3 linked regions of the Homo sapiens genome follow. The protein of the gene in region 1 interacts with the protein of each later gene in a biochemical or structural test. Each region holds a gene or a part of one and is shown on either strand. Other genes may lie near its edges.

What was found.
Region 2: the proteins of PAX2 (region 1) and PAXIP1 form a complex in vitro, tested with the Homo sapiens proteins (one study listed by BioGRID).
Region 3: the proteins of PAX2 (region 1) and NFIX form a complex in vitro, tested with the Homo sapiens proteins (one study listed by BioGRID).

What each region holds. Positions count from the first base shown.
Region 1 is NC_000010.11:100,803,335-100,813,922, forward strand, and holds part of PAX2 (paired box protein Pax-2), read left to right. Parts: intron 1-3,095; coding exon 3,096-3,271; intron 3,272-5,775; coding exon 5,776-5,902; intron 5,903-10,588. UniProt on the Homo sapiens protein: Transcription factor that may have a role in kidney cell differentiation. Has a critical role in the development of the urogenital tract, the eyes, and the CNS.
Region 2 is NC_000007.14:154,998,435-155,009,564, reverse strand, and holds the start of PAXIP1 (PAX-interacting protein 1), read left to right. Parts: upstream 1-6,440; 5' UTR 6,441-6,635; coding exon 6,636-6,716; intron 6,717-8,025; exon of another isoform or gene 8,026-9,485; intron 9,486-10,780; coding exon 10,781-10,915; intron 10,916-11,130.
Region 3 is NC_000019.10:13,018,041-13,028,628, forward strand, and holds part of NFIX (nuclear factor 1 X-type), read left to right. Parts: intron 1-5,931; exon of another isoform or gene 5,932-5,991; coding exon of another isoform or gene 5,992-5,994; intron 5,995-6,538; exon of another isoform or gene 6,539-6,593; coding exon of another isoform or gene 6,594-6,679; intron 6,680-6,738; exon of another isoform or gene 6,739-6,956; coding exon of another isoform or gene 6,957-6,980; coding exon 6,981-7,512; intron 7,513-10,588.

The sequences.
Region 1 (10,588 bases):
CCTCCTTGGACCTTCTGATCCAGGGCTTCTCCCAACCTCCTTTCCTCATTCCCTTCCTGCCCTCTCTCCTTGCCTTCATTCCTCCCTTCCTTCCCTAGCTGATGGAAGGATGCCACCCCCTCCTCTGGAAAGAGCCCTTGAGAGCCTATGGTACGTGTGGTGTATTTGGAGGGCTGGCTGGCTGTCCCCCACCAGTAATGCCACTGCCCTCTCCTGGGCCCTGCGGCTCACCTCCCTGCACCCCATAAGTTTCTTTGTGCTCCTTCGCCATTCATCATGACTGCTGCCTTCCTTCTCCTACAGGAGTTCCCGCAAGCCTCCTCCAGCCTCTCTGGGGGGTGGGGGTTCTCCGCATGCTTTCATCACACCACTTTGTTTTCCTTCTCCTCTAACGCCTCCTTTCTCCTCCCCACTTCCCTCTCCTCTGCTTCCCCGCCTCCCACTGCCACCTCTTCCAGTAGCAGGCTTCCTTAGCCTTTGCCTCCTTTCCCTCCCCCTTCCCCTCCTTTGCTGCCTCTGTAACCTGTCTTACCACCAGGGCCTGAGTATACAAAAAAATAAATAAATAAATAAAAAGGTCAGTGAGTGGAGGGAGCAGCAATAACCCCTAAAACAGTACTATCAGTGGAACATGATTGATCAATTGAATTCCATAGCGGCTGAAAAATGTGGGATTAAGTAGTGTATTATACGCACAATGAGTTGAGGCATGATGTTCATTTCAAGTTCATTTCGCCGGCCTCTGCCACCAGATCAGGCAATCAATAGGGGCAGCAGATATCATATATCACCTCTCTGCGGGCCGGGGAGAGAGCACCATAATCTCTCGCAAATTTAGAGTGACAGATTTGTCAAGATCTGAAGGGCCCCTGAATAAATGAAGGCAAAGAGACTCCTCCAGCCAGTGACCTGAGGACAAAGCTTCAGTTCAGCCCCTACACACACACACACACACACACACAGACACAGTGAGCCAAGCCACACACAGACAGGCATATACACAAATCTACACAGAGGCATGAGGAGAGTCCTGCCACACATGCACACACATAATGTGTGAACACACGCTCACAAATACACCCTCTCTGCCCCTACAATAACCATATATGAAGATATTTGATGCTTTCCTCAGCCCTGAGAGTCCGGCTTCCCCAAAAGGTAGGAGGGCTCCAGGAAGGGAGAATCAAACACAATAGGACACGCAAATAGCTACAGGGAGTGAAATGAGGATGATGGCACATCCTGAAAAAAGAAGTAGGCACAGGAGAAACGGGGCATGTGGCCTCACAGTCCTCATGCAATCACACACAGACACACACATTCTTTCAGGAAGCTTCTCATTCTATTTCCACACACGCAGACCCTTGTTTATCTGGACGTTTATATATGTACAAGCGCGTAGACACGCAATACTCACACAAAAGGGAAAAATAAATTTACCACACTTCAACTTTCAACTCATATGTTGATGCATACATCCCGTAAGACTGAAATGATTCCAGAGCCTTATGCAGAAGAAACCACAACCACCAAGTTTTGTGTTCATGGGAACAAATACCATTGAAGCTGCTTCTGTCTGTCTTCTTCAGATGTGGTCCTGGTCTTGATCTCTGTCTCTCTCTCCCTCTCTTTCTCTCTCTCCTTCTCTCTCTCTCTCTCTCTCCTTCTCTCTCTCTCTCTCTCTCACATACACACACACACACACACACACACACACACACACACACACACACACACACACTTTCTTTGCTTTCCCACCCCCTCCAGAATAGATATGGAGGGAAGATGGGAGGTCACATTAGGAAAGCAAACCCCATGCTCGGTCTGGGAGGCCAGCAAGGGAGGATGGCTGCAGGTTGAGTTAATCAATATGTAATATTTTCTATGGTCTCCTGAATGATACTGTATGGTGTTACTGTATATAATGCAATATTGATTATATCATATCGTATAATCACCTATAAACTGATATATATAACATTCCCAGAGGAACACCCTGGGGCCTCCGGCATGGGCTGGCCCCAGGCCCAAGGCTCCTCAGCTGGTCTTGGGCTGAGGGAAGCCTGGAGTGACCAAGCTGGTATGGGGTTTGGGGGGGAAACCCCACTTTGGGGGGCTGCAAGGTGTGGGTTCAGAGAGAGGCCACAGAGCAGGCACATTGCCTACTGTACACCTTGAAAACTCCAAGGAACCGACGCTGGGAGGCAAGGATAGGGGAGGGCTGAGAACGCCTGAGGAAAGGGGACATGGAGACAGGATTGGCCTGTAGACTCAGGGGAGCAGGCACCGGTGTGATAAGACTCTGCTCCCTCTGGAGACTTGCAGGAGGAACCAGGTGACCAAGAAACTGGCTCCTGTAGGAGGCTTGAGCCTGGGTCTAGGTTGGAGACAGAGGCCGAGAAGGCGGCCAGGGCATAGAGGCATCCACAGGGGCCCTTCTGTGGGCTCTGCCCAAGCGGGAGCTTTGCTGCTCTAGCGACACCTCTTTCCTCCCGCTTGGTTTCCCTCTGGCCTCAGTCCTGGCCCAACCCAAGCAGAGTGCCTCAGCTCTGCCTCAGAGCCCCTCCTCCCTCAGGGCGAAGTTGATTACTTCACCCAGTCTCCAGGTTACACTCGGCCTCGGAAATTTGATGGTTTTCAACCCTTGGAATTAGTGGAACTGAAATTCATCTCGGAGCCGAGTTCAATTCTCCACAGGCTCAGTAATGCCAGTCTGAGACACCCAGCTTCTTTCTTCCCCAGGCTGGCCCTGGCTTGGGGGCAGGGGGTGGTTCAGGGAGACATGCCCCAGGGAGCTGGCTCCTGGGAGCCCCCTGGCTCCACCTCTGCCTAATCCTTCCTGACCCCACAGTGTGACCGCTCCATCTCTTACCAGGTCCTCAGGTCCTTCTCTTCCTTGGGCTTCCTCAGCCAGATCTCTGAGGCAGGGCCACCCTCTGGTGTCAGCCCCACTGGCCCAGGGGCTGAGAGTAAGGGGTCCCATAGGGGTGCAGAGCTCCTGGGCCCGGAACCAGATGCCCACCTCTTTGCCCTGCACTGTTCCTGTGCCTCTGCTGGCCTGGCGCTAACGCCCCGAGTGTCCATGTGTTCTCCAGATGTGTCTGAGGGCTCAGTCCCCAATGGAGATTCCCAGAGTGGTGTGGACAGTTTGCGGAAGCACTTGCGAGCTGACACCTTCACCCAGCAGCAGCTGGAAGCTTTGGATCGGGTCTTTGAGCGTCCTTCCTACCCTGACGTCTTCCAGGCATCAGAGCACATCAAATCAGAACAGGTGAGGAGGGAGCTTTCTGCTTGCAGAAGTAGAAAGGAGCCGGCAGAGCAAGGCCTCTCAAAAACTTGTTCACTAAACACCACATGCATAGCCAGCATTGTATGTGTTACACACGTGTGTTCTGTGTGTGTGCAGTGTGAACAGGCTCACATGAGACAGTATGGTATCGTTAAGACAAATCATTATGGTCTGTATATGGTAATTAGAAATGAGTTCTGGGTGCAAGAGTATGGCCTTGGGTAAATCATCTCTGTTCAGAGCCTCGGTTTCCCCATCTATAGAATGAAGGGCTTGGATGTAGGGTTTGTCAAGTCCCTTCTAGCTCCGCTTTTCTGTGGTTCTTGCATGGAGTACTCAGGAACATCCTCTTGCTGTGTCCCTTGCCCACACCCCCTCAGGGTCCTACAGAAAGTCTACGCTAGACTGGGGAGCTCTCCTTGCCCAGTGTCAGGAGAGCCTGCCTGTGCCTGCCTCCTGCTCCCCAAGCCAGCAATTCAATGGAACCCTAGGTAGGCTGGCAGCTTCCCACTTACACCCAACACTTTCTGCAGACACTGAGCAGCCCAGGACACATAGCATGGGGCACAGCATGTAACACACCAGCAAAACGCACAACGCAGAAACCATCTCCGAACTTTTCTATGTGCTGGTGTGCATGTGCTCACACTCCACCATCCACCTGCTCCCCTCACCCACAGCCCATGGTACTGTGCTCACACACCACTGTCCACCTGCTCCCCCACCCACAGCCCACGGTACTGTGCTCACACACCACCGCCCACCTGCTCCCTCACCCACAGCCCACGGTACTGTGCTCACACACCACCGCCCACCTGTTCCCTCACCCACAGCCCACGGTACTGTGCTCACACACCACTGTCCACCTGCTCCCCCGACCACAGCCCACGGTACTGTGCTCACACACCACCGCCCACCTGCTCCCTCACCCACAGCCCACGGTACTCACAGCTAGCCCCGGCAGCCGCATGGAGCCAGTGGGTGTGTGCTGCCCCCAGATCACCAGCTCAGCATACCCCTAGCATATGCCTCCACCCACATACGCTGGGTGGAGCCCCCAGCACACCCGCTCCCACACAGGGGCACACTCCCATCCCTGCTACACATGCAGCCCAGGCCAGGCCCACAGTCACAGCACAAGACAGCATTGCTGTGCTTGCATGCATGCACACACGCACCCACACATGCACGTCAGTGCAGCCCCACAGCGTTGAACGCTGTAGTTCCACTCTTAAGACTCCAACAGCTCCCAGCCACTCGCCTTTCTCCCCGCCCGTCCTTTTATCCCATAAGCTGTTTGTCTTCATAAAACAAAAATCAAAAGTCTTTTTAAGGTGCCCTGAGCCATAAACCAACAAAGGAGGAGCTGGCCGAGGCGGGCGGCTCAGTGCACCCTCCCTGAGTCCCCGCCTGTATTACAATGAATAACCTTTATTTACTTTCATTAGACTATTAAACACCAGCACAGTCATTTTTCCCCCTGAAACTCGGAGCAGGGCCCATAAAGCAAATCCGAAGCCTAATTGAGTTCATTTTAATTTCTCTCCGATCACAGCGAATTACTCTGGTGATAAATCAGGGGGCAGCTTCACCCCCAGTAGAAGGCCTAATTTGCAGCTAATTACAAAACTGATTTCTACAGGAAGATCAATACGAGAAGGAATTGGAAATGACGAGGCAATCCCGTCCAGCCATGGAGGGGAGGGGGTACTCTAGGGGGGCCAGGAAGCGGAAGGGAAAAAAACAGACCCGAAAGAGCAGGAAATCAGTTTTAATTTAACGTAATATTAATCAGAGCAACTTTTCCTGCTTTGTGCAGGCTCCCGGTCTGCCCAGCTCTGGGGTCTGGCTTGGCCGTGGCTGCAATAAAAAGGCAATTACCCGAGTGTTTCAGGCAGGACACCCTTTCAGAGTCAATGACTGGCCCCCTCCTACCCTTCTGTTAGCCATGTGGACTCTCCCCCTCCCCAATTTCATACCCCAGTGCACAGGCAGACAGCGAGGGGCCCATGGGGCTGTCATTGTTTGTTTTTAAAAAAGGGGCGCCCATACCCGATCAGCCAGCAGTGCCAGGCTGAAGGCCCCACTAGGCCCTTCTCCCAGCTACTGGCTCTGCCAGTCATGTCATGGTTCCCCCTCCTCCCCAAGGCTCCTCGACATCCCATGCCTCTCAACAAGGGTATCCCCACTACTACACCCTACCCGCAGGGGTGCTTAGGCAGGAGATGCTACAGAAACATAAAGGGTGCTGGCATTAAGTGCCCAAAATGTGTAAAGGGTGCTGTGCCTCCGGTTTCACCAAGTCAGGTCTACTACCCGCACAAAACTTGCCATCATCCACCAAGCCCCCGCATCTCCCCTCTGCCCCACCATCTCTTTCTACCCCATCTGGGCGGGCTCCCCTGTTCCTCCTCCCCATCTGCACACCGAGCCCTTTCTCTGTGCGTGCATCAATAGAGAGCTGTCACTTTTCTCTCTCCTCCCAGGGGAACGAGTACTCCCTCCCAGCCCTGACCCCTGGGCTTGATGAAGTCAAGTCGAGTCTATCTGCATCCACCAACCCTGAGCTGGGCAGCAACGTGTCAGGCACACAGACATACCCAGTTGTGACTGGTAAGGGGGCTTCCAGGAGGGTGGGGGCACTGCGTTCAGTGGAGGGTGCCTCAGCCCATGCCATCTGAGGCCCAGTGTGAGGAGCAGGTCCCCCACCGTGATATTTACAGAGAGAACGAGGCTTCTAAAACCAGGGTGCTTCCTGAACAGGGGTGTGCAGATGTGGGGAGAAAAAAACTGGGGTCAGGGCATCTGTGGGCTTCAACCTGGAAAGGCTGATGCTAGGAGGGGCTGTTGCCAGTTCTTCCTCCTGTCCTTCGCCTCTCCCTTTGTCTATTTCTCTTCCCTCTCCCAAGTTGCCCAGAATCATGAGCCTCTTGTTAGGATGTCTGCAGAAAGCAAATAAGCCAGGCTGGTGAGAGTGGAGCATGGGTACCCAGTGTCCAGCCTCCACACTTGGGTCTCCAAGGCTCCTGGGGGACCCGCTTACCGCTCCCTCCAGGCAGCATGGGTGATCATGGCTTTGGGCTTGAGGGCATGGCACCCAGCTCTGTGGAGTTTGAGATGAGTACAATTATTCCAGCCTTCCTCCTGCTTCCCAGAGAGGTCAGTGACACCAAGGCTTGATTTCAAGGCCAGGTAGGATCAGGCTTGGCCCACAATCAAATGCAGAGCTAGGGGCGCCATGGCCAGGAGCCCCTACAAATGAAGAGCAGCAGGGCCAGTTAGTTTGGAAGGGGAGGTGGAGTCCAGGGAAGGCCGCAGAGCTCCAGGCTGTGGAATGCACGTGCCACTGCAGAAGGGTTTCCAGGCCAGGAGACTGCCCAAATGGGAGAGACACGCATTGAGGTGTTATTAAAATTCACCTAATTATTCTGGAGACACTAAAGCCAATGTGCCGTTTGTTCCTTGGGAGACAGGATGATTGAGAAGGGTCTCGGTGGGGATTGGGAGACACTGAGGCGTTACCTGCAGAGCGAGGCAAGCGGAGGTGGCCTGCGGACCCAGCAGCAGGGCTGCAGAGCCAGCGGCAAAGGCAGGGAACAGGCACCGCCCACTCTAGGACTGGGCCCTGGTTCTGCCTGTGAGCTGGTCTGAGTGCGGCTGCATTTGAGCCTGAGCTGGGCTCAGTGGCCACCCAGCCTCCACCTGGGGGCTTAGGAGAGCCCTGTCAGTTTTCCCAGCCTCTCCCTAAGGGGCTGTACTGGTACAACTGTTTCCAGCCTAGATCTTTGGCTAGGGAGTCAGAGGTTGAATTCTAGAAGTGTTGGAGACCTGGACTGGGCTTTCGGGAGTGACGACCTTAGCTGGGTTAGCTGGGCCAGGACACAGCCCATGACCAAATGGCCCTCAGCATGAGCCATCCTTCGCCCAGCTGGGAAGCTCTCTGACCTGCTAGGTATTCTGACCCAAGGCAGAGAGACGGCCCAGGCCAGGCCACCTTTCTCCTGACCTGCTCAGAAGTACAGTGGTCACTTCCCAAAGATGGCCACTCCAGGCACTGTTCAAAGAGAACCCGGGAGACTTCTCTAACCCCATCTGCTGCCCAGCGCTCAGGCCATAGTCTAGAAGGCAAGGGCTTCCTAGGGTGGAGCTATGGATCTTCAGGGTAGGGCTCCTGCCACAGGAGACCCAGGGGCTGGTACAGAGAAGTGCCTCCACCTTGAGCAGCCCCCACCCGCCTCCCCCCCATGGCCCTGGAACAGTCCCAGCTCAGCCTGGGAACATCTCCGGCTGATCCATCTGGATCCAAGTGTGAGAAAAGTTCATTTCAGACCCAGCTTGACATTCCCAGGTGGCAAGTTAGCACTAACATCTCAATCTGTATGCGACATTTCAATCAAGCGAGGAGTAACAAAAGCAGAACCATTAACATTCGGAGCTGTTCACCAGTGGTAATGACGGGGAAACTCGCTCAGAAACTGGAAATTACCAAAAAGAGACAAGTGTGTGGAGAGGTGGGGGAGGGAAGATGGGGATAGGGGTAGGGAATGATTTTTCCACACTTAGGCCAAGATCCACTGTTTGGATTAATAGTGCCATTACCCAAGAAAGAGCTGCAGATTATGCTCATTCTTAAAATGTTTTTGCTGGCAATTAAACTGCTGCAGTTATTGATCTTTGTTGATTTTATGTCCTCCTAATTTGCATAATCTATTAAAGATGAATGATTTATGATGTGTTTATTATGGGGACAAACAGAATTTGCTAGAGGTACTGTCAAGGTGAGCCATGGGGCATTGCTCAGAGACTCCATATGCCATCTCAGCAGTGGGTCCAGCATGTTGGCCTTCAGGCCAGGATATTGTGGGTAGTAGTGAGCAGTGATGCAAGGAGAACAGAAACAGGAGAGTGGACTTTGGGTGAGTTCTTCTAGAAAGATACTGGCATCTGTGAGAACTGGGCTCCAGGCAGAGCTGGAGTGCGGGAGAGGCCCTTAGTGTATTTGTGGACACTGACCTCAAAGAGTCTTTAAAAGCTTATTTTCTTGGCAAATATTAAGGGCTTTGGTGGGAGAAGAGAAAAGGAGGCTCTTTTAGGTGGGTAGGTGATTCTGGGGAGGTGTGTGCTAAAGGTAAGGGAGCTGTTAGGTCACCCAGTGCCCATAGCCTGGCTTAGGAGTGCCGAGGTGTTCAAGGAGCCCTCTTTATCCTCCACGTCTCAGGCACCCTGCTCATCTTCTTCCCCAGGACTGACAGCTGCGGCTGCAAACCTTAGGGGATGAGGGAATGCCCTAGCCCAACCTGAAAAGCCAGACCTTATTGAGATTCCTGCCACCTCCTGGCCCTGGAGGCTGATTTCAAACTTCACCAGCCACTTGATGCAGCTATTCCACAAGGTCAGGACTGAGAGGAGAGAGGAACCTAGACTATTGTGTGGAGGGGAGAGTGGGGCCCAGTGGGCCAGGACACAGCTAATCACATTGCAAGCAAGGGTGGCTGCCGGAGGCTAGGGCTCAGCCCCATAGCCTCCCCTCCCCACCTTCCATCAGGGAACCGAGGAGAGAGACTGATTTTGCTGGGTAGTGTTTGCAAGTTCTGCCGAGATTTTAATTTCACTGCATCACAACTCAGCAAGCTGCCAAGTCAAGCTGGTTATTTAAATTTATCACCCACTTTCCCTTCCGCCGCTGGGCTGCTCTAGCTCAGCGGCATCTCTTCTCTCCAGCCCACGGCTCTAGGCTGCTGGTCTGGAACGGAGCCTCGTCTCTCCTAAGTGATAAAGAAAGAGGGACCAGCTACATGAGAGAATGGGTCACGGGCATTCTGGCCCCAGGCTTTTTCAGGTTGGCTGGCTGTGGCTGGTACCTCTCATCACCTTCTTGACCCTCCAAAGGAGCCCAGAGGGGCTGCCATCCACCTCTCAGTAGTCCCAGGGCCCTCCGGGTCAGGGCATCTGCAGTGAGGACTCGCTCCAACTGCATGCAGGAGGCTTCATTCCTTAAAGTCTCCCATCCCTGGAAGAAAAGATAGTCCCTGTTCTCCATAGCATTCTCACCTTGACCCCCCCTCCCCATGTCTGGCCGGGGCTCCAGTGACAAAGGAGCATGCAGAGACACTGGCAGTGATGTTGATCTGGGAGGAGAAGATGAGAACTTACTCCAGGATTCCCAAAGTCACTGGGGATGTTTCTGAGCATTAGAGAGTCCCTTGACACAGTGCAAGTCCACCCCGAAGGAGAGAGCCCAGATGCAAGGAACAGTGCTGGAGAAGTCAGAGACTGTGCAGTTCCATGCTCTCTAGAAAAGGGTTGGCCAATCTTTTGGCTTCCCTGGGCCACTTTGGAAGGAGAAGAAATTACTTAAGTCACACATAAAATACACTAACACTAAGATAGCTGATGAGCTAAAAACAAAAACAAAAATAAAATACCTCATAATGTTTGATGAAAGTTTACGAATTTGCACTGGACCACATTCAAAGCTGTCCTGAGCAGCACGTGGCCTGTGGGCTGTGGATTGGACAGGCTCGCTCTAGAAGCTAGGGAAAGCACCAGTCCCTGGAGCCACTGCACCCACAGGCTTCACTGGCCTCTAGTGGGCATTGCTGCCGCGCACTGGCAGAGCCTTGAGCAAGTGCAGCTCTCACCGCCCTTGTTTTAGTCACAGAGAGGTAAAGGAGGAATGAGATTGATGTCTGGGACCCAGGCAGGCTACCTCACCAAAACATAACTGAATAAAATATAACAACAAAAATGTTAATACGCAGCAAATCTCACTCTTTGGTGCCAGAAATAGAGGGGAACTCAAAGCCAGATCAGTATTGGAGAGGCCGCTGGCATCACACTGGAGGGAGATGCTGACTGGGAGAGGATGGGGTTGTAACACACCAGTCAGGGAATGTGACTTTGGGAATCAGGAAGCCAGAACTGAGTATCATCCTGCATAAAGCAAGGAACAGAACAGGGACCACACTGTCCGTGAAAGGCAAACACATACACTCGTCTGAGTAGCCCAGGGAAACAAGGAAGGGGGCAGAATGGAAGGTCACCATGAGACATGGAGACGCCAAGCCTGATGCCAGATCAGAGTCCAAATTTATACCATGAGTATGTTGCAGGAAACCCAAGCCAGGAACTTACATAAAAATTTGTACAGGATAGTAACCCATTCTGAAACCTCACCAGGAGCAATGACAAACCTTCTTTGTAGAGACATTCTAAAATCCAGGGCACATGGGACTCCCACAGGGGGAAGAAAAAACCCCACCACTAATGATGAGCTTACTGTAAAAAAAAGTACACATC
Region 2 (11,130 bases), on another chromosome or scaffold:
CAGCTCAAGGCAACCTGATGAGGAACCTGGGAAATAAACACCGTCATACCTCTCTCCTCCCTCCCCTCACTGCCCAGCTTTCTGCTGGGACTCCCCATTGACCAAATTCAACTAGAAGCCAATGTGCAAGGGATTCTACTTATATAATCTGCTCAGGTCAGCACCCAGGGGCGGAGAAAAAGGTGGAGCAGGATGGAGTACAGATCTGACATGGGGAGTGGGACAAATGGAAGGCATCTAACACATCCCTCACATGCCTCAGAGAACTACCTTGTGTTTGCTTTTTAAAAATAATGCTGTTTCTTTGTTGTTTGTTTTTGAGATAGACTCTCACTTTGTGGCCCAGACTGGCATGATCTCAGCTCACTGCAACCTCTGCCTCCCAGGTTCAAGCGATCCTTGTGGCTCAGTCTCCTGGGTAGCTGGGATTCCAGGCGTGCACCACCATGCCTGGCTAATTTTTTTGTATTTTCAGTAGAGATGGGGTTTTACCATTTGGCCAGGCGGGAAAAAGAATACGCTTAATCCTCTATGTATAAAGCCAGTAACCTCAAATTCAACAAATATCTATTGAGTAGCTAACGGGTATTTTTTTTGAAATTATCTTTGAGAATTTTGTTTTATATTACACTAATCTTAATTCATATAAGAATTTTTTTGAAAACCAAAAATGGCAAAAATTGGCAAGATACCATCAATGCCATTTTCTTTTCTTGGACGTGTAAGAAGACCACATCACCCAGCAGTCTCCTTTACAGCTTACGGAGGTGTCAGGAGACCAGGTTCTGGCCAGTGGAAATGGCTGGAGGTATGTGTGCCACTCTTGCTAGCTCAGCCATAGAAACTGCAGCAGGATACTCTACATGCTTTGTCCCCATCTGTACAGCTAACAAAGCCACATGACAGAAGCCAAGTCCCATTTGGAAGAAAGCTGTCCGAAGGAAGCCACCAAGGCGTTATGTGCAAGAAACTTTCTTTTTCGTTTTTTTTTGAGACAGAGTCTAGATCTGTCACCCAGGATGGAGTGCAGTGGTGCAATCTTGACTCAATGCAACCTCCACCTCACCGGTTCAAGCCATTCTCGTGCCTCAGCCTCCCGAGTAGCTGGGATTACAGGTGCGCACCACCATGCTCAACTAGTTTTTGTATTTTTAGTAAGAGATGAGGTTTCACCATGTTAGCCAGGCTGGTCTCGAACTCCTGACCTAAGTGATCCACCTGCCTCGGGCACCCAAAGTGTTGGGATTACAGGCATGAGCCACTGTGCCCGGTGGAAACTTTCAAAGTCTTATCCCACTGAAATGTAGTTACAACATGATCTTAATCCGGGTTTCTCAACAGTGGCACTATTGACATTTTGCACGGGTCCTTTGTCATGGAGGACGGTCCCATGCGTTGCGTGATGTTTAGCAGCTTCCTATCCTCCACCACTAGATGCCAGTAGCATCCCCTACCCCCTAGTTGTGACAACCAAAAATGTCTCCAGACGTTGTCAAATGTGCCATAGGGGGCTAAATTGCCCATGGTTGAGAATCGCTGATCCTGTTACCGCACTGTTCTCAGAGTGACGGGAGACAGGTATGGGACGTCGTTTCTAACCTTAAAGGATGGAACATTATAATACGTTATACATGTATTTTAAGATGATTGCTTCATTGGAGTACTGTAATTGTTAAATTGGAAACAACAAATGTGCAACAATACAGAATATTGTACATTCAAACAAGGGAGTATTATGTATTCATTAAATGATATAGATATTTATTGACATGGAAAAACAGTCTTGATTTTTTTGAAGTGGCAGAGTATGGGGTATAATTTTTTTTAGGGAAATATATTTATACGGGACAATGTCTAGAAGGATTTCCATAGTGGTTGCTTCTGGGCATAGAATTTGAGGTAATTTACAATTTCTCTTCACTTGTGATTTCTAGTTTTCCGACACTGAATAGCTACATGACACTGGTGGCAGCTGTGCCCCGCAGGTCCACTGACGGGATCTTTCCTGCAGAGAAGCAGTGCTCCTTTGAGTTCGCAGTTTCTCCTTCAACTAAACTATGGCCTGTTTGTGCCTGCAACTGGAGTATTCTGACCCTTTCATGAGAAGGTTAAATGTTGTCTATAAACCCAAACTGAAGGTTTACTAAACATTAAAAATATCTAATTTTAAGGGATGTATGGATAGCTGAACAGGAGAGATGAAGACTGAGACTGTTGTATACAATATAGAAATACATTTAAAAAAAGCCATTTGGAAATAATCTAAGTAACTGCCTCGAGTTTCCACCAGTAAGGGCAATTTGAGTTAAATATCCCCAAATCTACTTTTTTTTTTCTAATTTTTTATTTTTCCTAGGCTTAGGTTATCTAATTTTGCCAAATAGAAAATGAGAAACATATTTACTGAACTAGCACTGGCAGTAAGCAGGCTGTTTAATTCTCCAAAGGCTGATTATCAACAAAATGATCATGCTTTTAATTTACCTGGGGGAAGTCTAAAAATATTAATGCTCAGTGTCATATTTGGAAGTGGTATATGCTTCAAATTAAACAAATGCATAGCTTCTGTTTAATAAACTGATAGCTATCACCCTAAAATGGGTCATCCTTAAAGTGTCACAAAACCAGTGATAAGAATTTTATTTAACTGTGAATAAGATACAGCACTGTCAACATGATATTTTGTTCCTATAACTTTGCATATGGCCATTTTGGGGAAGATAATTTCTGAGTTTACCGCTTGCCTTTAAATATTGACTTGCCATCTTTACGTCCTCTGCTAGATGGGTTACTCTTCATGATGTCAGGATGCTAGTTTTTTAGACTGCCTCAGAGCATCCTTTATCCACATGAAATTAACCTAATGTAAACATTTTTATTTTTCATTACTGGCCAAGCAGTAGTATTGGAGACTCAGTGAGTGAGTGTGACACTGCCTCCAGGCCTTCCTGATGCTGTTGCCGTAAGATCCACTTGTGTGGACCGCCTTGCACAGTTCACGTGTGATATTTTACAAATACTGACTAGGTGATGGGGTTTTAAATAGCAGATTTATTTATTTATTTAGAGTCTCACTCTGCCACCTAAGCTGGAGTGCAGTGGTGTGATCTCTGCTCTCTGCAACCTCTGCTTCCCGGGTTCAAGTGATTCTCCTGCCTCAGCTTCCCAAGAAGGTAGGATTACAGGTGCACGCCACCATGCCCAGCTAATTTTTGTTTTTAGTAGAGACTGGCTTTCACCATGTTGGCCAGGCTGGTGTTGAACTCCTGACCTCCAGTGATCTGCCTGCCTTGGCCTCCCAAAGTGCTGGGATTATAGGGGTGAGCCACCACGCTGGCCTTAAATAGCAGGTTTCTTAATCCCGCAATTTGCCTTACCATCAGAACCTGAAGTAGGGTAAGCTTGTTCTCTTGAACGTTACAAATTGCTTTCTTAATTCACAAAATAAAATACCTGGTTGAGGTCCACTTCAGGTCTTTTAACATAAAATCACATGCTTAGTTTGTGTTTAACCAAGAAAATCAAAGGGAGGGCCGGGTGTGATGGCTCACGCCTTTAACCCCAGCACTTTGGGAGGCCGAGGCAGAAGGATCACAAGGTCAGGAGTTCAAGACCAGCCTGGCCAACATAGTGAAAACCTGTCTCTACTAAAAATACCAAAATTAGCCAGGTGTGGTGGCACGCACCTGTAGTCCCAGCTACTTGGGAGGCTGAGGTGGGAGAATCGCTTGAACCCAGGGGGTGGAAGTTGTAGTGAGCTGAGACCACGCCATTGCACTCCAGCCTGGGTGAGAGTGGGACTCCGTTTCAAAAAAAAGAAAGAAAAAGAAAAGGATAAATAAGTTCTCTCACACAGGTCGATAAAAAGGCAGCATGATCTGTATTTGGATCTAATGTATTTATTACACTGATATATGCCCAACATAGAACATTAAACATCAGAATGATAAACATATACCAGAATATATCAAATATATTCTTAGGTATTAAAAGGTTTCCTGATTACAAAGGGTGTCATAAAAATTTAAGGATGGATGACAAATTCTTGGTTTTTCCTTCAGGCAAGCACTGAGTGTTTTTATTACAGGTTGAGTAACCTTTATCTGAAATGCTTGGGACAAAAGTATTTCAGATATTTTTGATTTGGAATATTTGCATATACATAATAAGATATCTTGGGGATGGGACCCAAGTCTAAATGGGAAATTCATTTGTTTCACATACACCTTACCTTACCCACATAGCCTGAAGGTAAGGTTATATTATATATTTTAAATAATTTTGTGCATGAAACAAAGTTTTGATGGCGTTTTAAAAAAAAATGTTTTCATTGTTTTTTTTGTTTTGGTTTTTGTTTTTTTACAGACAGGGTCTGGCTATATCGTCCAGGCTGGACTCAAACTCCTGGGCTCAAGCAATCCTCCTGCTCAACCTCCCGAGTAGCTGGCACTACAGGTGCCCACCACACCAGGCTTGATTGTGACTTGACTGTCACCCAGTGTCACATGAGGGCAAGTGTGGAATTTTCCATTTGTGGGGTCACGTCAGTACTCAAAAAAATTCGAATTTTAGAGCATTTTGGATTTCAGATTAGGAATGTTTAACCTAAGTTTGTAAAGGAAATTTTTTAGCCTTAGAATAGGGATGTTTCAGATTGTTCAAGAGACAAATGAAAGACTAAAACAACCAGAAAACATTGGAATGATAAATCATTAAGTATATTTAAATGTGCGTTGTTTACCTCCTGCCCATACAAAACCACTCATGACATACATACAAATGTAAGGACAAAACTGTAGTCACCTGATTAACAAGAGCCAGAGTTCATTGCATGCTGATCAACGAACCAACACAACTTTTATCATACACTAAAAAAAGGGTAGAACAAAGGCCAACTTAAAGCCTGGAAAGTGATCTAATCTGTTAAATTAGTGTACCGCAGAGTAATTTTGAAAGCCTTCTCGTTTTGTTTTGTTTTTTTTCAGAGACAGAGTCTCGCTCTGTCGCCCAGGCTGGAGTGCAGCGGCGCGATCTCGGCTCATTGCAACCTCCCCCACCCGAGTTCAAGCCATTCTCCTGCCTCAGCCTCCTGAGTAGCTGGGACTACAGGCGCGTGCCGCCACGCCCGGCTAATTTTTTGTATTTTAGTAGGGACGGGGTTTCACCGTGTCGCCCAGGCTGGTCTCGAACTCCTGAACTCAGGCAATCCGCCCACCTCGGCCTCCTAAAGGATAGGATTACAGGCGTGAGCCACCGCGCCCGGCCCCTTCTCTTTTTTAAAACCAATTTCACTAACATTTACTTAAAAATGATTTTCTGCTTGGCAGAAGTGACTTAAGGCATGTGGGGGAGACACTGCGGGTCTGTCTCAGATTCCTTTAGACACCAATGCTCCACAGTTTTACGACTAGGTAATAGTCCGATAATCACCCATGAGTTCCTGGACTCCGGTTTGTTGTGGGATTGGAAATAAACGAGAAAGGCTGCGTTCATCATCATGGCCTTAATTTCTTCTCCCAACTTCCGGTCGTGCAGGTGTCTTGGGCAGGTGATCCCGAGGCCACTCTGCCGTGTTCTGTGAATCTTGGCGGAAGGGAGGCGAGCTGTAAATAAAAGCGTGACCATTAGAATCGCCGCTGTGTAGTATTAACCTGTTGAGCGCGGGGCTTCCCGGGGCTGGAGCTGCACCGCGGGCTCTGCTGTCTGGGACTCTCCTCCAGCGCGGACCCGACAGGACGCCAGGGACCAGGCCGGTCCGGCCGGGACAGCGGGGCCTCGGGCAGCGACGGGGCCGGGCCTCCCCCCAGCACGTCCCCAGCTCGGGCACTGAGGCCTTGCGGAGACCCCAGGACTCGCCGCGGAGGCCACCAGTGCGCGTCTCGCGTGGCGCTACGGCCTCGGGAATTCCGTCACGGCATAGCCGGGTCCAGCGCGGTGTAGACCGGGGCCCCGCGCCTTGCTCGGCCAGAGCGGCTCAGGTACTACTCCAGGTCCGGCCGCACTCGCGGCCACTGCGAACAGCCGGGACACCCAATCCCACTCCGCCCAGGGCCAAGAAGCCCGAGGAGGCCGCAGAACCGCTCCCGCTCCCACTCGCGGCCCCAAGGCCCCACCCCCCCCTCCGCCGCGCGCATGCGCCGCCCCCGAGCAGCCGCATGTGGCGACGGGAGGGGCCTGCCAGCTCCCCTCCTCCCCGGGACCGGCTCACTCCGGCCCCGCCGAGGGGGGAGCTGGTTTCCCCTCGTCCTCGGGGCCCCCTCGTTGCAGAGCGGCGGCCACGGAACCGCAAGGGCCAGAGCGGGCTGCCGGCGCCAGCTACCCCGGAGCCGTGGCTGGCGGCAGAGGCGCGGGGCGTCACTGGAGGCCGGGCGGCTCCTCGGCGCTCCCCCTCGGTGGCCGGGGCGGGATGGTGCGTCCCGCAGGGCGCGCGCGGCTCCCGCGCTTCGGGCGCTCGGCGCGGGCGCGGGCGGGGGCGCGGAGGGCGGGGGAGCGGACCCCGATTCGCAGGACCGGGCCCGGGCTGCGCGGGCAGGGCCGTTGGCGGGGCGAGTGGGGGCGCCGGGCGCCGCGGGGGCCGGGGGCGGGGGGTGGGCGGGGCCGGGCGCCGCCGCGGAGCCTCCCGGGCCGCCGCGATCATGTCGGACCAGGCGCCCAAAGTTCCTGAGGAGATGTTCAGGGAGGTCAAGTATTACGCGGTGGGCGACATCGACCCGCAGGTACCGCGCCCGCCCCTGCCGCGGCCTCCTCCCCCGTCCGCGTCCCCGTCCGTCCCCGTCCCCGTCCCCGTCCCCGCTCCTGCCGCGGGCGCGCGCCGGGCGCAGAGCGTCGGGTCCGCCGAGGCCGCTGGCCTGACTGCGCTGAGGGCAGGGGCGACCGCGGGGTGGGCGCGGGAGGCCCGGGCCCGGGGGAGTGCGGGAGGGAAGGCGGCTGGGGCTCTGTACCTCGGCCCCTAGTGCGCGCCCTGAGCCCCCGGCCTGCGGCCCTGGGGTCGCCGCCCCCGACCCACCGGGCCGCCTCGTTCTCTGCTCCTTTGCTGAGCGGGACGGGCGCGGGGTCGCGTCTCCCCATTCCCCGCGCCGGGCGTCTCGGCTCCCGGGAGAGCAGCTCCGAGGGCGGACGAGGGGCGCCGGGATCCCCAGCCGGGGCAGCTCGCGCGGGGACCCCAGCCTCGCTCGGCCGGCGGGGGTCGTGGCCGTGCACCGGCTTGGCCGCCTCCGCCACCCGGGCAGCTGCCGTCCTGTGCGGGGCTGAGGAGCGCTCCCTTCCAGCCTGTGTCCCTGCACGTGGGGGCTGGCATTCGTCTTCCTTGATTTTCCCACTTGGACGATTAATTTTACGGTACCCTGGTAACACCATCACATTACACATTTAATTTTGTGTAGTTTGGGCTCACGCCAAAGGATATTGTGGGTTTTCCTTAGTATTCCTATAATAATATATCTGTTTGATGTCACACAGTTATCAGTCCGTGGTAGGAATGCATCTTAGTTGAATATCCTCTTCAGGTTAATCTTCAAAATATTTCCTTCTTAAAAGTTTAGCTGTACAGTTGTGTTGCCTTGGGTGTGACATCAGTGGCCCCCACCTTGGAGGATGGGGATCCCCAGTGATCAGAGTTAGGCCTGGAAGGGCGGAGACTCATATTTCGCAGATGAACTTGGATGGTGTAGAAGGAATTGTAGAAGGCTGAGTGATCTTGGCCTTCTTGAGGTTCGTCCTTGTAACAACTTTTTGGACCCTTTTTGCCCTGTAACTTTAGGGTAAAGAGACTTCAAGGCCGGGTTTACCCCTGTAATCCCAGCACTTTGGGAGGCCAAGGCGGGTGGATCACCTGAGGTCATGAGTTCGAGACCAGCCTGGCCAACATGGTGAAGCCTCATCTCTACTAAAAATACAAAAATTAGCCGGGCGTGGTGGCGGGCGCCTGTGGTCTCAGCTACTCGGGAGGCTGAGGCAGGAGAATTGCTGGAACCTGGGAGGTGGAAGTTGCAGTGAGCCGAGATCGCGCCACTGCACTCCAGCCTGGGCAACAACAGCTAGACTCCGTCTCAAAAAAAAAAAAAAAGCCTTCTATCTTTGAATTTACAGAGTAAAACAGTTGCTGAACACGGAGCGATGAAGATGAGTGCCTGTAACAGTGTTAGCTTTTTCCAGTATTGATGATTCCCCCGCCCCTCTTTTTTTTGTTTGTTTTTTTGTTTTTGTTTTTTGCTATCCACCATTTTTCTCTTCCCCCTCCTTCCTAGCCTTCGTGTTTCATTTTAGGACTTTGGCTCTTATAGGGGACTTGAACCAAATGTTACTTAAAACCTGGAACAAGTTGAACTGGAACCATATTTACTCGACTTTGAATCAAATCTAAGTGCTTAAAAATGTCCTTGGCAAACCACTTTCATCTGAAACAGTATATTTTCTGAAAAGTTTTGAGCCTGGACATCTGATTCTCTGACTCTTATGACTGTGGATTATAAGTTCACATGTTGACCATCTAATATGAGGCAGGCATGGACTAGGTGCCAGGTATAATACAGAGGTGAAGAGGACATGGTACCTGCCCTTTAGCGCCCCTCATTGGTGGGGGAGGGAGCACACCTGGACATATCACAGTACAAGGTGTAGCAGATTTCTCCACTGGGGTGCAAAGTAGACACCACTGAAATGTCACTCAGTAGATGTCATTTCAGTTGGGTTTTGAGATAAGCAGAAGTTAAGAACATGAAGGAATATTTTCATGTGGAGCGTATGTGCTGAGGAATGAAGGCATTCATGCGTTTGGGATACATCAGGATGATCACTATATCTGGAACAGAGTGATATGAGATAAATCTATTAAGATACTCAGTAGTGTGGAGATTGAAGAGAAGCTATTGGTTTTGGCATCCTCAAAGTTCGTGAAAACCGAGTAAAGTGTTTTTGGTAGAGTGTTGGTGGAAGGGGCTGGATTGCAGGGAGTTGAAGAGTGAATGGAAACTGAGAACAGAAAGGTTAGACTCTTCAGGAAGTTTGTCCTGAGAAGGAAATAGAGAAGGTGCCTGAGGAAGAGAGGGCTGGGGAGGGATCTGTGTTGCATCACAAGCGCGTGGAAGGATGTGGGTGACTTTACTGTTTACAGGTGGAGGGAACATAGCTATGGACAGGGAAACTCATGAAGAAGGGAGTAGGATCAGAAACAGACTGGAGGATAGGAAAAGGAGGGGTGCCTTTTCTGAAGACCAGTCGAATGGATGCGTGAAGCTAAAAATGCTTAGAGGTCAAGGGAAGGAAGAAAGGTAAAGTGGCCCATGGCCAGTGACCGCTGTTTTTTCACTTACTAAATATTGAGCCTCTGCTCTAGTTCATATCTATTAGTGGTCGGTAAAGTATTCTGAAAAGGTTGTCTAGCTTGTGGGTGACTTTATTTTTTTTTGAGGTTGGAGCAAAAGTTTAATAAGTGAAAGAAGAAAGCTCTCTGCTGCAGAGAGGGGACCTGGAAGAGCGTTGCCCTGGTGGGTCACTTGAGCTTTGTGGGCACCATGTCACTTTGACAGTTGGTGTGCACTGTCAGCTTAGACACTGCCCACCTCTTCTGAAGCACTTGACTGTCGACTGTTCCTTAACCCTCACTTCCTTGGCTTCTGTTGACGCTCCTCTCCTGTGATACTGCACTTCCCTACCTGTCCCTGAAGTATCAGTTGCTGTGTCTGCTCTCTAGCTCCCCTCCCATTCTGCACTGCGACCACCTTCACGCTCATGGCTGTGGCTCCCATCTATGTAACAATGCTGATGACTTTCTGTCAGGGAGATCCACATCTTTTCCTAGCTGCAACTGGATGCCTCTTGCCAGATATTAACACGACCCCCAAAGAATGGCATGCCCAAACTAAAACACGTCCTTGTGTCCCCACCTGCCAGCCTTCTGATGTGTTCCTCAGTGAGTGGTACTCACCACCATTTCAGTCTGGACTTTGCTCTTTTGCTTATACCCCTTCCAGACACCAAGGCTTGCCGATTCTCTCACATCTTCCTCCTTTCTGCCCATCAGGACATCACTTTAGTGGATGCCTCTTTCACCTGGGTTATTGCACTTGTTTCTTAACAGGTCTCTTGTCTTTAGTCATCTAGCCAACCAAACACAGCCAGCCCACCCAATCCTTTCTTTTCACATGGACTGTCATCTTTGTATGAAATCTGTGCTACTTTTCCTGTGTGAAATCCTTCAGTGGCCCTGCATATACCCCAGAATGAAGCACAGACTTTTTTGCATAGTGTGTAAGAAAGCCCATTTACGGTCTGCTCTGTATTCACCTGTTCAGTGCCTTCAACACTGCTCCCTCTTCCTCGATGTATGGATTTTTGCCTAACACCCAGACGTTTATGAGGGTTCTGCTCACATATCTTGTCTTCCAGAATCTTTCCCTAATTATGAAACTCCCCATGTCCCAGTCTTTAAGTTGGAAGCTCAGGAGCACCATGTGCGTGGCCCCACCGCAGCAGTGGTTGTGCTGTCTCCTGGTTTGTCCAGCCCATCTGTCTTGAGGACAGACCATGTCCACTACTGGACTCACAATAGCCTCCATTACTTGGTCATTGACTTGGTCAGTGAATCAAGATTTGCTGCTTTTGATTGTCCCCGAAAGTTTCATTGGCATATTATTCAGAGTAAAAGGCTGTTAGTTTTTATGTGGGGAATATGGTGTGTTTTTATTAAAAAGTACTATTATGCCCAATAATTATTTCTGTAATTCAAGAGTACAGTACAGTATTGCCCATTTTAATTTGTGTGGATTTTCTTGTTTTTTAGGTTATTCAGCTTCTCAAGGCTGGAAAAGCGAAGGAAGTTTCCTACAATGCACTAGCCTCACACATAATCTCAGAGGATGGGGACAATCCAGAGGTGGGAGAAGCTCGGGAAGTCTTTGACTTACCTGTTGTAAAGGTCAGTAGTAAACATAATTTGTTTTATATCTTTTCCTCAGTATCTTGCAAGCAGTACATTGAAGTTTCACTATAGCTCTTTTCAGGGTTTTTGCTAAAGTCCTGTTTTATTTTATTTTTATTTTTTATTTATTTATTTTTTTGAGCTGGAATCTCGCTCTGTTGCCCAGGCTGGAGTGCAATGGCACGATCTCAGCTCACTGCAACCTCCGCCTC
Region 3 (10,588 bases), on another chromosome or scaffold:
ACTTCTGTTTGGTGACACAAGGAAGTTTCAAGCTAAATAATGAATTAAAGAGTAGGATTTTTGTTTCCCATTCCTTGTAGAGGATGAGATGAAAGTAAACAATTTCCAGTTGCCTTAGAGAGAATAGATTGTCTCCCCTAATATCCCCATTCCTACCCTATATTATTCTGTGCCAAGAGGGTAAGGGAGATGTGCCTGGAGCAGAGGAGCATTTGGAGCCAGAACGAGGCTGCCTGTTGGCCCGATCCCAGGCCACCGCTCCTGGTTTGTAGTCTGGAGGAGAAAAGGAAGGGGCGGGGGGGGGGGGGGGGCGCGGTTTACAGGAGAGAAGTGTGCGGCCTGGCTGTGAGGCAGACCCTGTCCTAGACCCAGCACTGGGGTGTGGGGCGAATCCATTCAGCCAGCATGAGGACACTGGAAAGAAACTGCGCAGAGCCGCCTTTCCTGAGCAGAGGAAAACAGGCCCAAGTCAGCCAAAAACCCGCTTTGTCCAAATTATCCGAGCTCCCTCGCAAAGTGCATTTTCCGGTTTCCATTCCTGGAGTTTCCAGACTTTTGGATGATTTTGTTCTGACTACAGAGCCCCTTCTCGTTGGCCCCCAACTGAGGGGAGGCCCCACCCTCCTCTAGGATAAGCAGCAGGGCCCCTTCCCTGGCTGCCCAGTGCTGCCGCTGCGTCATGTCTGCAGTTCCCTTCCCATCTCTGGCCGCTGTCTGGCCACTGTCTTCTTGTGGCCTTCCACGAAGCAGCAGTAATCTTGGGACAAGGTGGGAGAGCTCAGGGTTACGAAGCCGGCTTCTTTTGGTTCAGACCAAGGCTGAATTATAAAATTCCAACAATTGGGCAAACTAATTGGGGCCCTGTTTATGGCCTTTTTAATTTCCCATGTCCTTTCATACCCAGGCTGCAGATATGCTTTATTAAAATGGATACTGGAATATCTGGTCATTTCTGTGAAGTTTTGTAAGTTATTTGCTCTAATTGCCTGTAGTTACCCAGATCAACATGGGCCCAAGTGTCCAGGATCTGAAAGAATAAATCTGGGCCTTAAAGCCAGCAGGATGTGGACACATAGGATTTTTTTTTTTTTAAGATAAAGAAGGCTACTAAAAGTGGCCCTGTCTTAAAATATACAACTTCTTATGCTTCTAGATGTTTCACTATAGGTAGGTGCGGGCAGGTTGCAAAACCTATCTCAGTCTGGGAAGATTATTTTGTTTCCTTGAAGAATTTTTAACACTGTATATGTGAGTGAGGTGCTGTACATATTTTCCTATTTTTCTTCAAATAATCCATACAGGCTCAGTGGACAGGTCTGTTGTGTAGAGTTTTTGAAAACCATGCATTTCTTCTCATGGAGAAGCAGTCATTTTCCTTAACTGGTTTTTCTTTCTCTGCCGCGGTGCAGAGCCCTTTTCTGTCTTCTTATTTTTCTTCCTCTGCTGTTCTGTTTCCCTCCATCTTTGTCCTTCTTTCTTTTCAGTTGTGGGCCTAGCTTGGCACTCTCTCTCCAGGTTTGGCTTTTTTCTCTTTTTTCGTTCTCCTTCTCTCTATTTCTCTTTCTCCGTGGCCCTTTCAGTCTTTTTCTGTTGGGGGTACATTTCTCCTAGTGATGGCTGAAACTGGCATGGGTATGTATTTTAGAAATGTTTCAGTGAAAACTGTTGCTGGTTTTTTTTTTGTTTGTTTGTTTTTTTTTTTTTTTTACCAAATAGTACTCAACAATAAAAGACAGAGGCTTTTCTTCCATAATGGCAGCAAAATCCCTTTCCACAAACCAAAAACCCATATGAATTTTTAAAAAGTCTTATTTCTGGCTTCTCGATGATTTTTCTCTCCAATGGGGGAAATACCTTTCCCCCACAATGTTTCCTGCTTTTCCTTTTTTCCCCCCTTGTCTTTTTTTTTTCTCTTCCTATTACCAGCATCAGTGGCTTCCTTTCCCCATTTCCCATGTCCTTCTACTCTGTGGCCTGCATGTCCCCTTGCTCTTTCCATCACCTGAACTCTTACACTTGCCAGTGACTCAGACCTGGAGAAGCCTTGAATCGTATGAGGGATTTTTTGTCTTGATTCTGGTCTTTGGTGCAGGATGTAAAGCGGTCTGATCTCCTGCCTGGGGCTGGAGGGGAGAAGAGAAGGAGGCTGGGCTGGGAACAGGTAATCTTCCAACAGGAGCCTCCACTCTTTAACAAAAGGGGGACAGTTTCCTTTTGTCTAGGGCTCATGAGGGGCGTGTCTGGGCTGATGGCCGCCACCAGTGGCATGCAGGAGGAGGGGGCCCGCAGTGAAGGGTGCTTGAAATGTTTCTAATGGAACCCGAGCAATTCCTCTGTGTGCGCCCAAAATAGGAGGGGAGGAAGGGAGGGAGGGAGGAAAGAGAAATAGAGAAAGAGACCTTCTCATCTCCCGAAGCATCAGAATATCCTGGCCACTCCTCCAGAAAGGCCTCCTCCACTGGGAGCCAGCAGCCCATAGAGAGAATGGGGTGAGGGGAAAGTATTTGCCTGAGAATCTTCTGCCCACCTGCAAGGTTATAGCCACTGGCAGGAGAAGGACAATTGACAATTGTTCTTCCTCCAACTTTCTGCCCTGGGAAAGGCCTGTTGCTTCTTCTGTTAAGAGAGCCTTGAGGGGGTGCTTGGGGCTCTTTGTAGGTCCCTGAGGCTCTATTGAGACACTCTTCTGCCGCCTCTCCTCTGATCTCTCCGCCAGTCCGTGGAGTTTTGACCCCCAACCCCTCTCCAGGAGCCAGTCGTGCATCTTGTCCTGTTTCCCTAACTTCTACATGGATCCTTCCATCTGTCATTTCCCAGCTGTGGGACTGTTGCTGCCCCCACCTCTATCCCTGACCCAGTTGTACCACCAGATTCAGATTCAACCCATGTCGAGCATGTCTCTTCTACTGTGGCACTGTGGTCTGTGAAGTGGAACATGCCAGGATTCTCCAGGAGGCTCGTGTTGGCCATTTTCTGTTTGGTGTCTAATATTTAGTATAAATCAGAATACAAGAAAAACACCTCCATGCCAAATATAAACTCACTTGTAGTTTTTAATGACCTCATCTTGACTTTAGAAGGTAAAATTGTTTCCACAAGGTGGAGAGGCAGGATTTGGTACCTTATGTCATGTCTCTGAGCTAACATCTTTGGCTGATTGGACTGAAGCTGGTTATTAACATGATGTGAATTATTGGACACCACCCTAAGAGGCCTGTCTCTGATACCACCTGCCTTCTGTACTCTCACCTCTAACCGTTTCTTTCAGGGATCAGCCATGAGCTCAGTTCACTTGAGATGGATAATTCAGGGCACAGACTGGGGTCCCAGGTGTTGGGCAGCCCCTCTCCCATTGTCAGGGTTCAGCGCCAGCCCAGGGCTGGATGTTTTATTTTGGCATGCCCCAGGTGCTCTTCCGGGAACCTTTCTGCCAACATAAAGGCCACAAAGCACAGGGTTTCAGTTGGGGAAGAAAGGGGCACGAGTGAGCAGTGACCTTTTTTCCGTCGCCAGCTGAGGACTGAGCCTCGCTGAGGGAGAGGGCGGCTGTAGGGATGGGGTTCTGAGTGGAATTGGATCCCTTTCTCCCTGTCTGCAGCCACATCCTTCTTCCTCTGCTTTTCCTTTTATGTCATATCTATTTCCTTCTTACTGTGTTTCGAAGGCCTCAAGCATGGCTGCTCCATAGCTCTAACTGGAGAGACCCCCTCAGAAGTGGGACTCCCCTACCCAGTGCTCACCCTTTCTGCTTGCTGTGAGGAAGGTCCCCAAGTGGAGGACCAGAGCAGGGGCTCCCCGGTGGGTCACTTCTCTGTGACTTGATTTCCCCCAGGTGGCCTGTTTTTGATAGAGCCCTTTGCTGTTTTTTGTTGTGTCCTTTCTTAGCTCTTTTCTTTTCATTTGGGTTTCTCATTTTATACTTTTGCACTTTGCACTGCTAGGGTTTGGGCTCTTTAGTCTAAATTGATTTGGGAGACAGGTAAGAAAACTAATCTCAGGTCAACTGGAGAGGGCAGATCTGGAGAATTAAATGCCTGTGCAGTGGTGAGGGGCGTTGGTCAGATTCCTTGCCTCTGCTCAGAGGTAGTGTCCATCTTTTTGCCTTTGTCACTTCTCCCCGGGTCTGGCTGTTGTTTGTGGCTGCGTGTAGAGCTTGTCAGGCGGAGTGCTGTGACAGGAGGCTATTTTAATAAACTGTTGCAGTTTCTCGAGCCGAGCTGTGTTGCGTTGGCATCCCTCGTCACCGCTAATGGAGTGTGCGTGGCTGGGTGTGGGCCGAAGGAGGAGGCTGAGCTTGCTGGGGGCTGGGGGAGAAGGGAGGGACGTGTGGGGTGCTGGCCTCCCCCTTGTCTGAGAGTGCTCCTTCAGCAGCCAGACCTGGGGGCATCACAAGGTGGCAGTACCCTGGGCACCAGATCCCTGCCCTGGAAGTACTGCTGGCATGGACACTTTCTGAGCTCTCTTTCTTCTTATTTCTATTCATAGCACCGCAGGCCCGTGTGTATGTGGCCGGGGAGGAAAACTTCCACTCGCCCCTGTGTGCTCCATAGGAAGAAAAAAAAAAAGAAAGAAAGAAATAGAAACAGAAAAAGAGAGTGTGCAGGCCCGAGAGAAAGACTGAAACCAAAACACAGAGAGAAGGCGCAGCTGCTTCCCCAAGGCCTTCTGGGGCTCCCGCCCGCCAGCCCGCCGGGAGTCAGGCCTTTATTTATTTATTTTTCAGGCTTAAAAAAAAATTTCGAGTCTTCCACAATCCCAGTCCCCCCCAATGCCCCACCCCACCCCCAGATTTGCTGGGTGGCTGCTGCCAAATGGACCCGAGTGGGAGCCTGGAATGAAAAATTCATAACTGCTGGACTTTGCTTGTTCATTAGACGTGAACTTGTCGATTGGGCAAATTGTTTTTGGTCTCCAACTGCCGGGGGCTCTCCCCACCCTCCCTGCTCGCCCGGTTCCCTCCTCCCCTTGGACGCAGCCATTGGCTGCTCGTGGATGTCTCTTTGCCAAATAGGTGGATCCTTCTCTCTCTTTCTCTCTCTCTCTCTCTCTCTCTCTCTGTCTCTTTCTCCCCCCACCCCTTTTTACTGGCTTGGCACAAGCAAATGGATGGGGATTGAGCCTGAAAGGAGAGAGAGAGAGGGAGTTTGAGAGAGAGAAAAGGAGCAAAAAAAAAAAACACCCCAAAAACCCAACCAGTGCGCACACACACGCGCACACTCACACACACGCCCCATCCCATCCACGTCCTCCCTCGATCCTCGATCTCTCCCTCCCCCCCTTCTTCCTTTCCTCCCTCCCTCGCTCCCTCTCTCTCTTTTGCACGCGTCTGCCAGCAACGGTCTGCAGCCGGTCAGAACTCGTCCTCTTCCCCGGGAATCTGCGAGCTCCCCCTTTTCCTCCGATCAGGCAGCTCGAAGTTTACACCCCTGTGCCGCTGCCAAAGCCGAAAGCCTTTTTCTTCAGCTGCCGCTTTTTCCCTCCTGGGTTTTGTTTTTGTTTTTGTTTTGCACGGGGGTGGGGTGGGGTGCGTTGTTGGTTGTGGGGAGATGGTGGGAGGCTGGTTTTGATTTTTAAATTTTGCATTTTTTTCTTTTTTTTTTTTTTTAAACTGGAAGAGGATGCACAGGGGAAGAAATTGAAAAAAAAATTTTGTTGGCTTTTGTTTACCTGGCGTGTGTGGCAGCCGGCTCGCTCCCTCTCTCTGCTTGCTATCCCTGACCTTTCTTTCTTTTTGCTCCTTTTCAAAAAAAATATTAATTTCCCCCTTCTGTGCAATGGAGCATGGGGGGGGGGAGGAGGGGGAAGGGTTTGAGAATCCACCCAAGCCCGGCCCCTATTCCCCAGAACACCAATAATAACCCCCTTTAAAACATTTACCTTCCTCCCCTGCTCCTCCTCCTCCCCCCTCCCCCCACCCGCCCCCAACTCACAACTCTTTTGAGTCCAGAATCTCAGAATCGGGCGTTGGGCTTTGCCGGGTGCTTCAGATCAATGGTAATTATTTAATTTTTTCCAGTTTTATTTTTGTAAACAGAAATCAATTATTATTTAAACTTCAAACAAGCAAACAACCAAAAAAAAAAAAAAAAACCAAACAAAACCGAGAGAGCCCATCCTTCTGTCACCTGACTGAGTGGGAAAAAGGGTGAAGGGGTTGTGGGAGGCTGGGGAAGGGGTCGCAAGAAGACCCATGTAGCTTTTAACCCTAATGTGGCCGAGACAAGCACCTTATTTGTGCTAACAAGAAGTGTTTTGTTCATTATTACTGTGATTAACATTAGTATTGGTGTCGATAACAAAGCTGAAATCACATATTTAGGATTTAGGTCTGATTAAAAAATGTTGGGGTGGATGTTCCAACTGGATCAGGAGAAAAGAAAATGAAAACAGCCTGGGGAGAGGGAAGCCTGATCTGTTTCCTCACTCGCTTGCTCGTGGATGTCATTTTCTGTCTTCTTGGGGGCGGCCAAAAATCGACCGGTGTCGGGGACCAGAGGCGGCCCCGCACGCCCCCGCGTGTGCGTCCACGGGCGTCTGTGCAGACGGACACTGTGCCGGGGCGAGCTGACAGGAGTTCACGGCTGCGATAGAACATGGAGATGTCATGGGCGCGACAGAGCCTGGCGGGGATACCAGCAGCGTGTGTGTGTGGACGGCAACGTTGTCTGTGCGCGTGTGTGTGAGTGAGTGAGGGAGAGAGAGAGAGAATAGGTGTGTGTAGAGGCTCCCGGTGCCTCTGTCTGGCTGCTGAGGCTGAGATGGGAGCAAGTGGCTGGCGAAGCTGGTGGTGGCTTCAAACCACACTTTCGTAGAACAATCGCAAGAGAAAATTGTTGGGGGGAGGGAGGAGGAGGAGAAGGCGGTTTTCCTTGTGCCCCCCCTTCTAACGCTGCTTTTCTCCTTCTCTCTTTCCCCCTCATCCCGTCTTCCCCTCCTCCCGTCCTCCCTCGCCCCGCATGCTCCCGGCTTGCCGCCTGCAGGATGAGTTCCACCCGTTCATCGAGGCACTGCTGCCTCACGTCCGCGCTTTCTCCTACACCTGGTTCAACCTGCAGGCGCGGAAGCGCAAGTACTTCAAGAAGCATGAAAAGCGGATGTCGAAGGACGAGGAGCGGGCGGTGAAGGACGAGCTGCTGGGCGAGAAGCCCGAGATCAAGCAGAAGTGGGCATCCCGGCTGCTGGCCAAGCTGCGCAAGGACATCCGGCCCGAGTTCCGCGAGGACTTCGTGCTGACCATCACGGGCAAGAAGCCCCCCTGCTGCGTGCTCTCCAACCCCGACCAGAAGGGCAAGATCCGGCGGATTGACTGCCTGCGCCAGGCTGACAAGGTGTGGCGGCTGGACCTGGTCATGGTGATTTTGTTTAAGGGGATCCCCCTGGAAAGTACTGATGGGGAGCGGCTCTACAAGTCGCCTCAGTGCTCGAACCCCGGCCTGTGCGTCCAGCCACATCACATTGGAGTCACAATCAAAGAACTGGATCTTTATCTGGCTTACTTTGTCCACACTCCGGGTAGGTCGTTCTCAACCATTTTTCCCTCTCATTTTATTTTCCTTGCTGGCATTTGTTCTGTTTATTGTTCCTCTAATTTCCAAGCGATAACTCGCCATGGGCCTAACTGGTGTATGCCCGTCCTGCGGGGCCTGCAACACGGTTCTATGGGCCCTTTTCCTTTTTCCTGTCTTCTGTCTCCCCCGACCTGTTCTATTCTTCCTCCTCTGCCCCCTGGCCATGGTATCGACTTTGTGCATCTCCATCTTTGGAGGACTTATCTGATCAGAAAGATGCTGCAGGTCTTAGGATTGGGGACATGATGCCCCCAGAATTATCCATGATGGTGAGAGTTTGAGATGAACAACAACAGCAAACCAGTAATTGCTCTTATTAAAATGAGTCAGAAGAAGTATTGAGGGGCAGGTGCTAGTTTTACTGCAGCTTCACCTCCAGTCCCAGGAAAAACTGGGTTTGGTACAAGCGGGATGGGCAGGAGTCCGGTGGAGAGAAGGGGCATGTGAAACCCTGGGATATGAGACTGAATGAACAGAAAAGAGGAGAGAAGACAGTAGTGGGCAGATTCTGTGGCCTAAATACTCAGGCGGGAGCTGTTTTGGCTGGGATTTGGCTGTCAGTATGAAAGTAATTTGATTTCATAGAGAGTGAAAACAAGGACGAGATTCCTTGAGCTCTTTCCCTTCTCCTTATTTCAGCTAAAGTGGCAAGGCCTCAGGATGGATGCCCACAGCCCTGGCACTGGGGAGCAGAGAGGCTTTCTCGGGGCACAGGCATGGCAGGGAGCAGCGTTGCTGTGGAAGAGGTCTTAAACAAGCAAACAAACAAACCAAAAAAAAAAAAAACTCTGTAAAATCTCCTTTTCCTTTTGTGTTCCAAGTAGTTCTGCTTCTCTTCGCTTTTCCAGTTTTACCCTGCATTTTGGGTCAGGGTGGTTTAGTTCTCCTCCTCTGTTCCTTTTTTCCCTTACCCTTTCCCTTTTTATAATTTCTTTCCGCTTTTGTTTTCTTACAAATTGAAACAGAGATGGCTGGTTAATTTTTAGCCTCCACTCAGCTACGCCCAATTTACTGCCGCCTTTGAAACCTAAACGGGCGGCACTCTGTGATTAAGCAAGGCAGAAGTGTGTTTACATTATGCCCAACCAACTTGTAATGAGAGGGCTACCAAACCTTTCTCTCTCTCTCTCTCTCTCTGTGTGTGTGTGTGTGTGTGTGTGTTTCCTTTCCACCATTCCAGTATTTTTTCCCCTTCATTTTCCTTCTTCCTCTCTTTATGCGAATTTGAGAGAATGTGGCTTAACTTCAACTCTCGCAAAGGTTGTTTCTCCGCGAGTGTGTGTCTCTGTGTCTTTCTTCCTGTTCATTCACAAAAAAGAAAAGTGATTCACAATGGCTGTGGTCACCCCCTTGCCTGTTTGGGAAGTTGGGAGGAATGATATAACTGGATCCAGAAATAAAATTCGGGTTTGGGGGTGCTTTCAGCACTGCGTCAGGAATGTAATCTAGACTAGAGTGAGCCCTGAGTTTACATGTTGGAGAACTGTGGAGAGGAGAAGGTGGTATTGGAATTCTTGTCCTGAGAGGTTGCTTTGGTAACTGGTTAGAAGCAGGGGACACCACTCTCACCCCCCAAGTCTCTACCTACTTCTGTGGATCTTTCTAGGCCTGCATCCGGCCCTGTGTGACCATCGTGACCCGTCATGCAGAAGGGCCAGGTGCCAGTCATTCCCCCTCCCTTCAGCTTGAATTTTTTCTTTTGTCTTTTTTCTTTTTGGAAAACAGACTGAGAGGGAAAAAAAAGTTATCCCCTCATTCTCTGTCTATACAGCAAGCCAGATTTGGGAGGGTGTGTGCCTGGTAGTATTGGAGGTGACTGGTGGCTTGCAGAAGGCTCGGAGCCTCGAGCTTACCAGTGTGGCCATCAGATACTCCTGCACAAGGGGATTCTGCACCTTCCAATTTTAGAACCAGGGGCTCGAGAGCATCTAAGATGAAAATCAACACTCATCTTCCTCTGAGCTGGCTTCCTCCAACCCCGCTCTCTGACTGGATCCTTGTAGCTGAGTTGTTTCCCTGGCCTCTTTTATTTTAGGCCGAATTCTTGACTGCTGCCAGTGTGGGGCTAAGGTAGGATGAAAAGTATGTGAGGAAGCAGACCGTTTCCTGGCCAGAAGAAAGGCCCCACCATGCCTCCCTGCCAGCTTAAGAGATCATTCGCCCAGGAATATGAGTGAATTCATACCCCATTCCATGTAGCCGAGGCCACTTCTCTGGGCTGGGGCTGAGGCCGAGTCTCCTCTACAAAAGCAGAGTAGGGAACTAAGGGTGTATTTTATATCATTCAGGCCCCAGACTCCAGATAATTTCAGTGAAGGTAGGATTTTTCTCACTGGAATTGCTTTAGTTTGAGTGTGCCTTCCTGAAGTGAGTTGAGGCGAGTTGGCGCAGCCCGGGCCACCAGTGGGCTGCATCACTTGTTCCTCTTTGGAGTTGGGTTGGGTGGTCTTGAGATGGCACAGACCAGGCATGGCTTGCTTCCTCCTTGAGCTGGCAAGAAATAAAAACATTTCTTGCTTTGCTAGAAAATGTCTTCTGTGGCTGAGCCACCAAAGAGCATCGATCTGTGGGCACCACTTTCTCCATGCCCATGCCTGCCAGGCACACTCAGCAGAGCTGCCACTTGCTCCTTCCTTCCAGGATGATAAACTGGGGACAGGGGCCGGGATGGCACAGGCTCAGACAAGAGCTGCTTTGGACTCTGAAATAAGTGTTTTTCCTTTTCTTAAGACAGGGCTGAAGAGCCAGATCTGGGCTGAGCTGGGGGTCCTGGGTTTCATGACAGTAACGGTGATGTGGTGGTAAATGTGGGGGTGTGGCTTTGCTCCCAGGTGCCATTGTCACCCATGGCCTTCCTGAGCCCTTGTTATGTCCCAGATGAAGCTTCAAGAGATGACATGTTCGAGAGGGAATAAAGGACGTGTGTTTGGCGTTGAAACTCCACTCCCAGAATACTGGGTCCAAATACAGAATACTAGGTCCAAAAGGCTGCCATGCGGCTGGCCTTCCTGCTGGGAAGG